2 separate regions of the Homo sapiens genome follow, and region 2 is linked to region 1. The links come from fine-mapping of genetic effects on gene expression. A gene starts in region 1. The other region holds a variant in brackets. All regions are shown on one strand. Distances are between the middles of the regions. Region 1 holds the start of MAB21L1 (mab-21 like 1). Region 2 holds the start of LOC105370163 (a long non-coding RNA gene).

What was found.
Region 2: its variant is fine-mapped to the expression of MAB21L1 in tibial nerve (GTEx, PIP 0.90).

Annotation. Positions count from the first base shown.
Region 1 is chr13:35,474,415-35,479,791 of GRCh38, forward strand. It overlaps MAB21L1 (mab-21 like 1), which reads right to left and starts at 2,275. Exons shown (of 1, transcript NM_005584.5): 1 at 1-2,275. The coding sequence starts at 1,724. The coding sequence ends at 645. The region is part of intron 41 of NBEA (neurobeachin); the gene reads left to right. RefSeq lists enhancers at 851-1,847, 4,361-5,157.
Region 2 is chr13:35,857,696-35,863,072 of GRCh38, forward strand. The region is part of intron 5 of DCLK1 (doublecortin like kinase 1); the gene reads right to left. LOC105370163 (a long non-coding RNA gene) reads left to right here and starts at 370. Exons shown (of 3, transcript XR_941855.3): 1 at 370-451. RefSeq lists enhancers at 1-320, 863-1,402. The variant G/A (reference allele first, on the strand shown) is at 2,835.

The DNA.
Region 1 (5,377 bases):
ACAAGCAATATTTGAAACAAAATGTAAACTTTTTAAAGTTCAGACACTTTCAAAGACAGATAAAAGTACCAGGAAGAAATCTACCTTTAAATGATATCTTTGTTAGTGGAAAATGTCTGGAAGTATCCAGAATGGCAATTTAAGTTCTGTTCACCAAATCACAAAACACCAACATCCACACTTTCAAAGACAATGTGAGATCACAATATTTGTTACAAATCAAAATATACATTACAGTTTCTTTCAGATGGCATATCCAAATCGTGTTTACTCACAGACAGATGCACCTAAATCACCAGGATTGCTATAATCCTTTGATAGTTAGGCAGAGTGTTCGTCTCGGTCTGGCGTTACAGCTGGGCTGTTTACGGAGTGTTACGGTGTACTTTTCAAGGGAGATAGGAAATCGTGTGGAAAGAAGTCTTCTAATACTAGTGGCTTTGGGTTTTTCTCCATCCGCTTCCCCTACTTTTTCTCCCCTTGTGGGGGTGGGTGAGATGATGTTTAAATATTGTATTATTATTCCTTTTTAAAGGAAGAGATTGTTTGCACTGCGGAGTGGAATATTAGGAATTGAACAGAAGTTTACACTTAATAAGGACTTTGAGAAGGGTAATAATTTCGGCTCTTGATTAAATCATCCTCTAAAGTTTTTCCAAACTTTTCGGGTTGGTCAGGATCTCTCTTGCCAGTCGCCACGTTTGTTTGGCAGCGTTTTCCAGAGCTGAGTGAGGTTTGCCTTGAAACAGATCTAAGTTCGGTAGAAAGTAGTGGGGACACCGCCGGCACTGCAGGCAGGAGATAAGTTGCAGCAAAATCCCGTTCAGCCGATCACCCAGGCAAGACTCGTCCCAGTCCGACTCTCGGGGATGCTTTTCACACTCGTAGGAAACCAGAGTCTTCATATGGTAATTGTTCAAGGGCTGGCCCGGCAGTTCAAGGTGACGATCCCTTAAGGTTTTGAGGATGGAGAGGCACTTCTTTCTGCAGCCCCCCATCTGCAGTCTGTTCTCTGCCTCCGCGAACTGCAGCACCCAGGCGTCGCTCTCCGCCGAGCTCTGCTTGCCGGCCAAGGAGTGGCACTCCTTGGACAAGAGATTGAAACCTTCCGCCTTGACCTCCGCCACCCGGTTGGGTCCCGGCCAGGGGATGTGGGGAAGTGGCCAGTGGGCAGCACTCCTCGGCCAGATCCCGGTGCATTTAAAGGCCGGCGTGATCTGCACCACGTACCTATCTCGGATTCTCAGTTTCACTTCGCTGGTGTCTGCCACCATCTTTACCACATCCCGGTAGCTACATTTGTCTACCGCTTGAGCCACCAGCGTCTGAAACCTGGACCGGATTTTGCGCGCCGAGAGGTAGCCGGAGGCGGTAATGAATTCCACCCAGAGGGACATGCTCCTCTTGCGCCCGTCGCTCAACTTCAGCACCGCGCAGCCGGGCAGTGAGCCATCGTCCACGAAGTTGAACACCCCCATTTGGTTGAGATAAAGCACCACTTCAAATTCGGTGGGGGAGATGACCTCGAGGCCCTCGTAGCGATTGTCCATCTCGTTGAGAGAGCTGATGAACCGCGGCTCCTGCACTTCCACTTCCTTCAGTACGTCGGAAACTACTTTGCAGACTTCCCGGATAGTTTTGGCAATGGCAGCTTTCCTGGCTTGGCATTTTTCGTTGTAGTATTTATTCAGATGGTAGACCAGCTTGGCCTGGGCCGCAATCATGTTGGGGCAGAGATCCGGATTGTACACCGGAGTCTCGCAGTAAGCTGTGGGATCCAATGCGGCTGCTAGAGCTGGAGCCAACTTCGGTGGAGAAACGGGCCGCAACACTCAGAAATGGATCAAAAATGCCTTTCGGAAGTGCTGCAGCGTTGGTTTCCCTGCTGCTGCTGCTGCTGCTGCTGCTGCTGCTGCTGCTGCTGCTGCTGCTGCTGCTGCTTTTCCCTTCCTTTTATCTTTGAGCCCAGCCGTTCTTAAAGTGAAAGACTGTCCTCCCCCCTCTGCTTGTCTCTCTTCCTCTTTTAAAGAATCCTTGTGTGAGAGAACCGCATGGAGAGATCACCTTCTCAGGAATAAAAAACAAAAGTTGCGCTGAGACCCAGCAAAGCTCTTCCAGTAGTCAAAATAAGCACCCCTTTCCGTATTTATTTGCGCTTTCCCGTAATCATTGTGTGTGCAGCACTGTTAATCAAATGGAGGAAAAGTGTGCTGAGTGTGTGTCCGGGGTGAGTGTGCGTGTGTATATGTCAGAAGAAGCTGCTGTTGGTTTGTCTAAGAGCCCAGATGCACTCGTGTGGAAATTATAAAGGCAGGGCCAGGCAGGCGGGCGGCCAATCGCCACTGGGCTCGTCACGACAGCCTCCTTCAGCTCCAACCCGGCTAATTAATCCCCACTCATGGATATAGGCACACAAACTAAAGGTAGGAGGCTGCTGCCGGCGGAAAACCACTCAGGCCACCTAGACAGTTTGGAAATCAAGAGGAATCTCTCAGCTTTGGTATTACTTGAAGCATATTGACGTTTTGAAAAGACTTGGCAAAGCGGCTCTCTTCTGTGCCGAAAACCTGCTTGTCTTTTACCGCTGAAATGCAAATACAGGTGTATTAATGGGCATCCATCAATTAGTGATCTTGACGGGGTTTTCTAAAACAAAATCACTAACTTGCATTTAGAGTAAGATAATTAACGTCTGTTAATCCTTGGGGTCTTCTTAAATGCAGGTTGAAAGTTTGTTCTTTCATGCAGACTACTGGCATATGGAAGTTGGCTTTAGATGGAGGAGTACCTGTGTAATTTTCTCATTCTGGATGTTCCTATATGTTAAAATGATTTTTTGAAACGTTATGGAGGTAGTATGCTCTTTTTTTACTTATGTTTTTTTCTTTTCTCCATTTGTTGAATCTGAAAATTATTGCTGAGTGTGTGAGATGTTCTACCCCTGTTTAAGTTAGGATATTTAAAAAATATTTCGTACATCCCTCTGCCCCAGCAGATGCAGTCTTTGCACTTTGGTGGACTTGCCCAGCATTACAAGCAGGACACAACGCTATATATGCACTTATAGAAACATTTGAAAAATAAATTGTCTGTGGGATGGACAGAGTACTTTAGCGTTATTTCATAGTGACCTGTATTTTAGTACATAAAATTCAGGTGAGATCATAGAGATCAAGCTTCCTCACAGATAACTATCCCGAAAAATTGAAGGTTTGGGGTATCTGGCTTGTTTACAGATGTATAATTAAGGATATATCTCCTGTCTTAAGTGTCCTTAAGTGGTGACCTGGCAGTAGACTTCTAATTTTATACTATTTCGTGTGATTTAATTAAGGGAAAATGGTTAACATTTGCAAAGAAAATTAACTTGCAGTTATCTGGGGGGTTTTTTGGATTTAAACATCATTTTGAAAACAAAAATGAAATAAATCATTTCATTTCTGAATTTTGGAACCTGGAAACAGGAGGAGGAATTTTTTTTTCTAGTTGGTGGTCCAGTTGTGTCCTCAAAGTACAGGAAACTAAAGAAATACTACTTAGTGGTTACGTTGTGGTTTTTAAAACTAGGTGGATTTTTTTAATTGTCTACCTTTAATTTAGATGCCACGTCTTTCCAATTAAGAATATTTCCCGTCAAATCCTATAACTCCCGGTAACATGTTTGTAGACACTTTCAGAGTCACTTTTAACAAGATATTCTTCAGGGCTCCCACTTGCTACTTAAGCTTTTGATTTTTGTTTGTGTGTTTTGTTTTGCACAGGCACAGCATCACAAAACCACCTATTATTTAATTTCTCCTTATCCAACAGTGATAGATTCCAATTTAGCTGAAAATAGTATACATTGGGGTGCGTGGCACCCAGCTACTCTATTTCCCAAGAACCTTCCATCCCCTTAAGAGCAGGGTCTGGGAACACCCAAAAAACCCCTCCCCACTTTGCCGTCATCGCGGGTGAATGCACCACTACCTTTTGGCAGTTGGAGGGGAGACCCATCAGAGCCGGAGAACCTGCAGCCACGACGGCGAGGATGTGCAGTGGTCTCTGGGGAAACGCCGCCTTCTGCCCTCACCCGGCGCGTGTGGCCCTGTGCCGTCCGCTCGCCGCCTCTCTCTCGCTGCTCCGCATTCCCGTGCCCTCTTACTTTCCTCTCTGGGCTCAAGATCGCTACGCTTTATTTCTGCGTGAGCTTATTTGAAAACCTTACTTGGTGTCCCGGCTTACTCTCCACGTCTGCTCCAGACCACGGTCTGCCCACGCACCCCTCAGCCTGCACCGCCCACGTCCGGCCCAGGTGTGGTCGCAGCCAAGCCCCAGCCGCGGGCCCCTGCGCCCTGCGCTCTCTCCCTTGGGTTCAGGCCAGAGATGCTTGCCCCAAGACCTCGCCCCTTGCCTTCTTGGGCCACCTGCAGAACACCCTTGGTTGTCAAGGACGTGAGACAGCCGAGGACGGGGAGGCCCCAGGGCTGTTCGGGGGACCTTAAGTGGGTCCAACGGGAAGGACGCGGGCCTGCGAGGGATGCCGGTCGGGCCTGGCTGGAGCCAGGCGCGCAGGTGGCGCATCTTCGGGGCTCACTGTGCAGCTTAATTGGGTTAAAGCGAAGCTAAACACCGAAGCACTTTGTGCAAACTAATTGGTGCAACCAGCGCCTTTTCACTAACGATTTGCACTTTGAGAAAGAAAAATGGATGGTGAGAAAAGGTATACTAGGAAACTCATTAGATCTAGAGTGTTCAGGAAAGTGAAGTCATTTAGTTTAAAGGACGCCAGGACTGTGTTTTCTAAGCTGCTTCCTTAAGCACCCCTCACACAAGGAGCTGAAGGTGATTTACATAACATAGGATTCACCGGTCCGCGATTATCACTGTGGGTGAACTGGGCGCCCTGGAATGAATAATACTCTAGTGCAAGTACTGCTTGTTGCTGCAACACAGTGATTTTCTATTACACTGAACACGTGAAATGAATTGCCTTCTGTAGCTGAATCCTTTCAGTGATCGTAGACGCCCCTCATTGTTGAAGCGAGAATTAAGCTATTCGGAGAAGCGTGTTTTCCATCCCCGAAATTTTTTTATGGAAATGACCTATAGAGAGGGATTGCAAATAACAGTACATTTTTGTGCAGTTCAGCCGATTTTAATCTAGGCTTGGGGGATATATTTATTTTATGGGAGTAATATATTTAACTATTTTTCAGTGAATTTTAAAAAAATATCATTTGACCTATTAAACTAGTTATGTCAAATGATTATGTAGTACATAGAGATGGCTTAATATACATTTATGTATTAATGTGAAAAGTTTTTTTAAAAAACTCCAGTTATACCAGTCTTGCAATATTTTTTGTTGTAAATATACTCAGTGCTACTAGAATAA
Region 2 (5,377 bases), 380 kb after region 1:
AATCCTAATAACCAACAGTGAGAGTTGGCCTACGCCCTTCACAGAGGGCAGTGGATACAGAAGTTAGCCTGGTGAAGCAAGGGGGGCACAATGAAGGAAAAGTGTCCTCAGCCCAGGGATCTCCTGTTTCAGGGCTGGATACGAGAAAGGAGGCCAGTGTGGTACACTGAAGAGACTTAAATAACTAAGTAAAGCAAGTATGTGGGGTTGGAGGCGGAGGAATGTCAGGAATGAGATGGAGGCAGGGGCCGCATAGTGAGTAGTGCTTTAAAATTCATGTTAGGGAGTTTGGTTTTTATCCAAAGGGCAATGAGAAGAAAAACAAAAACAAAAACAAAGATTTTAAGCAGGCGCCACAGGATCAGGCTTGCATTTGAAAATGCTCTCCAGCTCTTGCCCTGTCAAGAATGGATTAGAGGGAAACAATACTGGGTGCAAGGAGAATGTCAAGGTAGGAGAGAGTGGGGCACATTTAAGGGTCCTATGGTAGAGATGCTGACGTGGCTGATCTAGGGTAGTGTCATGGGGTGGAGGTAAACGGAAACGTTCCAGAGAAATGTAAGAGGTAAAAACTATAGAACCTGGTAATTGATTGGCTGTAGAAGATTAAGGCCAAAAGGGAGCATGTTTGCAAGGACAGAGAGTTTGGACACTTTGAACGGAAGCACCTTAGGTAACATCAGTTCTGCCATGTAAGTTGGTGCAATGTTTTCTGTTTTAGATGAAGAAACATGTTTAGTCAGGTAACTTGTCCAAAGACAAACAGCTGGAAGATGGCAGAGTTAAAGCTGGATTTCATTTAGGTCTTACTCAAAAAACTTTGCACTTTTCCCATGAGTGGCTGGTCCTGGCACCTCAGGGCATGTCCAGAACCCTCCTAGCATCTGCAGGGCTGAGGATGCCTAGGCTTCTCTCTCTACCACCGGGACACTCGGATCTGCCTCCTTTAGGCAAGGTTATTGCAATGGTAATTGTGGTTTTTGCCATTAAAAGTAAAGCAAAAACTGCAATTACTTTTGCACCAACCTAATAAAACCACTGGGCTCAGTGCTTCTATTTGCATCGCCATCTCTAGAAAAATGAAACTCAAGTGCCAGACAAGTCATTTACAATCAAATGCTTTTGGAACACAACTTGTCTGAACATTGGGAACAGCATGTACTCTTAGGGTCAGAGCTCTGTTCAGACTCTTCCTCTTGGCCATACAGAAGAGCATTAGCAACTTCTTAAAATGGTTCTTGACATCCAGAAAGCATTACACACCTTCTTGTTGAATCACTGCTGGGATAAATAATTTTCTTTCATAAATAAGTTTGACACATGTACTGAGTACACTTGGTTTTTACTCTGTAATGCCAGAAGTTTCTAAGTGCCATAACAAGGCTTTGTGACTTATTTAATAGAACTTATTAAAATTCAACTTAAAATGGCATTATTTTTTCAGAGGCCCTTATTACACAATTCTTTATCTTGAATGGGAACAATTAAACTAACACGGTTGTTGTTAAACAGCCAAGCAGGGCTGAACAATTAATTATTTCAATCTGAATCCACTAAACTCTGAATTAGTAAAGAACTCATTAGAACCGCTGCCTTTACCCAGTTCTGGTCTCCTTTGCTTTTATCTGTATAGGTACATTTTCTTATTTTAAAAAATAGGAAATGTCATCCTTTGCTGTGCTTGTTACCCTTGAATGAGAAGTGCTCAACTTCAAAATGGATCATTCACTGATACCATGATGACCAATTAACATCACTGGCCACCAAAGAGCTGTGGAAGAAATCTCACTGCAGAGCTGACTTCTATCCCTCCCGACGGTACATGACCCTCCTTTATTTCGACTCAGCTGTCACCTAAGCCTGTCAGGGATCCAACAGCATATACCGGTCACAGCGCATTGTTGAATAATACTCCTCAGGAAGTGTGCAGATCCACCTTTTCCTTCATCATTTCAGACAGGTGAACCAACTCTTCTTCACTAACTGGAGCCACGAGTCCAGGGCCCTAGATATCAACCTATCAGCACACGTAGTGTACACTTAGTACATGCTAGATTCTTATTGCTCCCTGTCCCCAAGATGCTTATGATTAAACATCAAAGTTACTTTAAAAAATCTAGAATTTGGAAATACTTGGCTTAATTTACAAATTCATTGCCCTTTTAAATGACTTTCCACGCATATGTAGGTTAACACTTCTTTTTGCAGTCGCGTTCCTAAAAGTCTCAGACACCAAGTGAAAGCTGAATGTTAGTAAGTGTCTCAAATTGGTTCTGAAGTTAGAGAAATCTCCAAGCGAGACTATCTAATTAAAAGATGTGCAACTTTTTGGACGTGAAATCCACCTTACTGTTTCCCTGTCTTCTTTTAGCACTTAAGGAGGCTCATTTATTTCTGGTGCTGCACTTGTCAAGATTTGGGGAGAGAATGTGTTTGCATATATGTGTGTGTCCTTGGGTTTGGGGGTGGCGATTCAGGCACGCTGCCAGGGAGATCTGGCTTCCTGCCTTAGACTCTCCTTTACTCCCTAATCATGGTGTAGGCTGTTCATTCCCTAAAATCTCTTTCTCAGCTTTTGTTCCTTGCTTGCCACATTATTGAGAAGGAAAAAAAATGCAGGGGGTGGGGGGTGCATAGGGAATCAGTTGAGACCAAGAGAAAAGAGACAACTACCTAACAGAGGGAAGAAGACGTACTTTTTCCCTAATTTTAGCTTCTTGGGTGCTCACCTCATAGGTGAGGTGGAGCTCTGATTTTCTCCATGTCTGTTTCCTCTTCTTGAACTGAGACAATGGGTCCAATTCAAAGAAACCATCTACTGAGAATAATGGGAA[G/A]GAGGGGCCCCAGGAACAGAGGAGAGGGAGACAGGGACACAGCTCTGTGAATTAATTTTTTAAATAAATACTTACAAAGGCTCCAAACCTCAGGAAATTTAGGCAACAGCTCCTAGTGTTTCTCAATTCATTCATGTGGTCAACATTTACCCAGTAGTTACCATGAACTCACAGTCACTGTAGAATGCACAAAGAACCCCTGCTCTCAGACTTTACAACTGAGCAAGGTGGTGCAACGTGTCATCTGTGAATCAGCTGCTGCAGTACTGCAGGGCTGGGGAAGACCCTGGACAGCGAGGTGATCCGGGAAAGTGGCAGAGGTCTGCAGGGCCAAATTGGGTGAGTGGGCTTTAGACAGCTGAAGAGACAGAGGAAGACATTCTAGCTAGGCCAAGTGAGAGGAATAAAGGGATGAGGTGGAAAAGCCCAAGCTGGGGACAATTTAAATTTGTTTCTAGGATGGAGCATGGGTCCAGAGAAGAAATGGGGGACATGAGTGGAAAGGAAGATGTCCTTCACTTGAGAACAAGTTCAGACTTTATTTGGCACACAACAGGTGATGGCAGCAGGTTGGACATTGGTGCCCAGGGCAGATGTAAGATAAAGTGGGAGGACACCAGCCAGCAATGGCATCACCATAGGGAGAATGGTGACCCACTGAGTGTGGACAGGGTGGAGAGAAAAGAGTTGGTGATGATTTGGGGTACAAGAAAAAAAATTTAATTAAACAATAAAAAAAGACCAACTAGAGTCCTGTGATGTAAAATTAGGAAATTTTTGGATCTGATCCCTATCAGCTGGGATCCAAGAACAGGCTATGGTCATGATAGGGGAATTGGGGACCACAAGCACCAAGGGTCAGGGTGGATGAGGGTCCTGGGGTTGATCCCTACCAACCAATCGCTGCAGGACAGCTCCCGCTAGAGTAAAGCCTGGAGCCAGCCTGGGAAAGGACCCACGGTGACCACCAAAAATCACACTCCCAGACCAGGTCCCCCTGCCATCTGGTATTGCCCATTCCTTCATAGGCCACAGTGGTGTCCTCACTGCTGAATCCTACGATCCCCATTCAGTTCTCATGCTACCTGACATCTCAACATCAAGCATTTCTGCCCCGTCCTTCATCTCAAAACTTTCTGCCCCTTTGACTTCTGTCCCTGTACTCTTACTGTTCTTCCCTGCTTCTGCTGATTGCTCTTAGAAATGCAGACTTCTGGCCAGGCACAGTGGCTCACGCCTGAAATCCCAGCACTTTGGGAGGCCGAGGCAGGTAGATCACGAGGTCAGAAGATCGAGACCACCCTGGATAACATAGTGAAACCCCGTCTCTACTAAAAAAAAAAAATACAAAAAATTAGCCAGGCGTGGTGGCGGGCACCTGTAGTCCCAGCTACTCGAAGGCTGAGGCGGGAGAATGGCATGAACCCAGGAGGCGGAGCTAGCAGTGAGCGGAGATTGCGCCCACCGCACTCCAGCCTGGGTGACAGAGCGAGACTCCGTCTCAAAAAAAAAAAAAAAAAAAAAAAAGAAATGCAGACTTCCCTCCCCCATGCATGGTTCCATTTTCATCTTTACAAATCTCTTGTTGAGGCAGCGGGGAGGTACCTTATGTTTCTATTATTCAAATCACTACAATATACCAGGGTCTCCCAAATATATATTGTTAGCGCAGATCTCCTGACTTAGAACAGTTATTTATTTCCAATTGCTTACAGACATTTCCAAATCGCCTCACACTCCACATGTCTAAAACGAAACTCATTCCTTACCTCTCCTCATCCAACAAACCTGCTTCCTATCTCTGATCCCTCTCTCTTCTTCTAGCCTCACATCCAGTTAAATTTCTGGTTTCATTTCCCTTTGAGGTCTCCCCCAGCTCTTTCGGTTCTGTCTTGACAATTTCATTCCAGGATGACTACAATGGCCTCATAGAGCCTTCCTGGCCCTTGGCCTTTCATGTGTAGCAATTTTTTCCACCGCCATGCCACTGTTTCCAAAACTCAACTGCGATCTTTCATGGCACTGTGAAAAATCCCCTTTCACTTCATAATACCTACAATCTACAGCACAAACATACTTCCACGACCCTGTGCAATTTGACCACAACCAACGGGGCTACCACCATCTTTCCAACTCTTTCTTAGAATTCTATCCTGCATTTTTATTGAACAAGCAACTATTCCCTAACTATGCCATATAGTTTAATGTCTTTGTGCCTTAGCTCACACTGGGAGGGAATGTCCTCCTGGCCCTTTTTTACATCCAAATTTATAAATCCTTTTCTCTTGGAAGAGCTTTCTGACCCTATTAATGAGATCTAACCTGTTTCCTCTAGGTCATCACAGCACTTATTACACTATTATAGTTACATGCATACAGTCAAGTACCACAAAACAATGTTTTGGTCAACAAGGGACCATATATCCGATGGTGGTCCCACAAGATTACAATTCTGTATTTTCACTGCACCTTTTCTATGTTTACACCTGTTGAGATGTGCAAATGCTTATCATTGCTTACAATTGCTAGGATATTCAGTACAA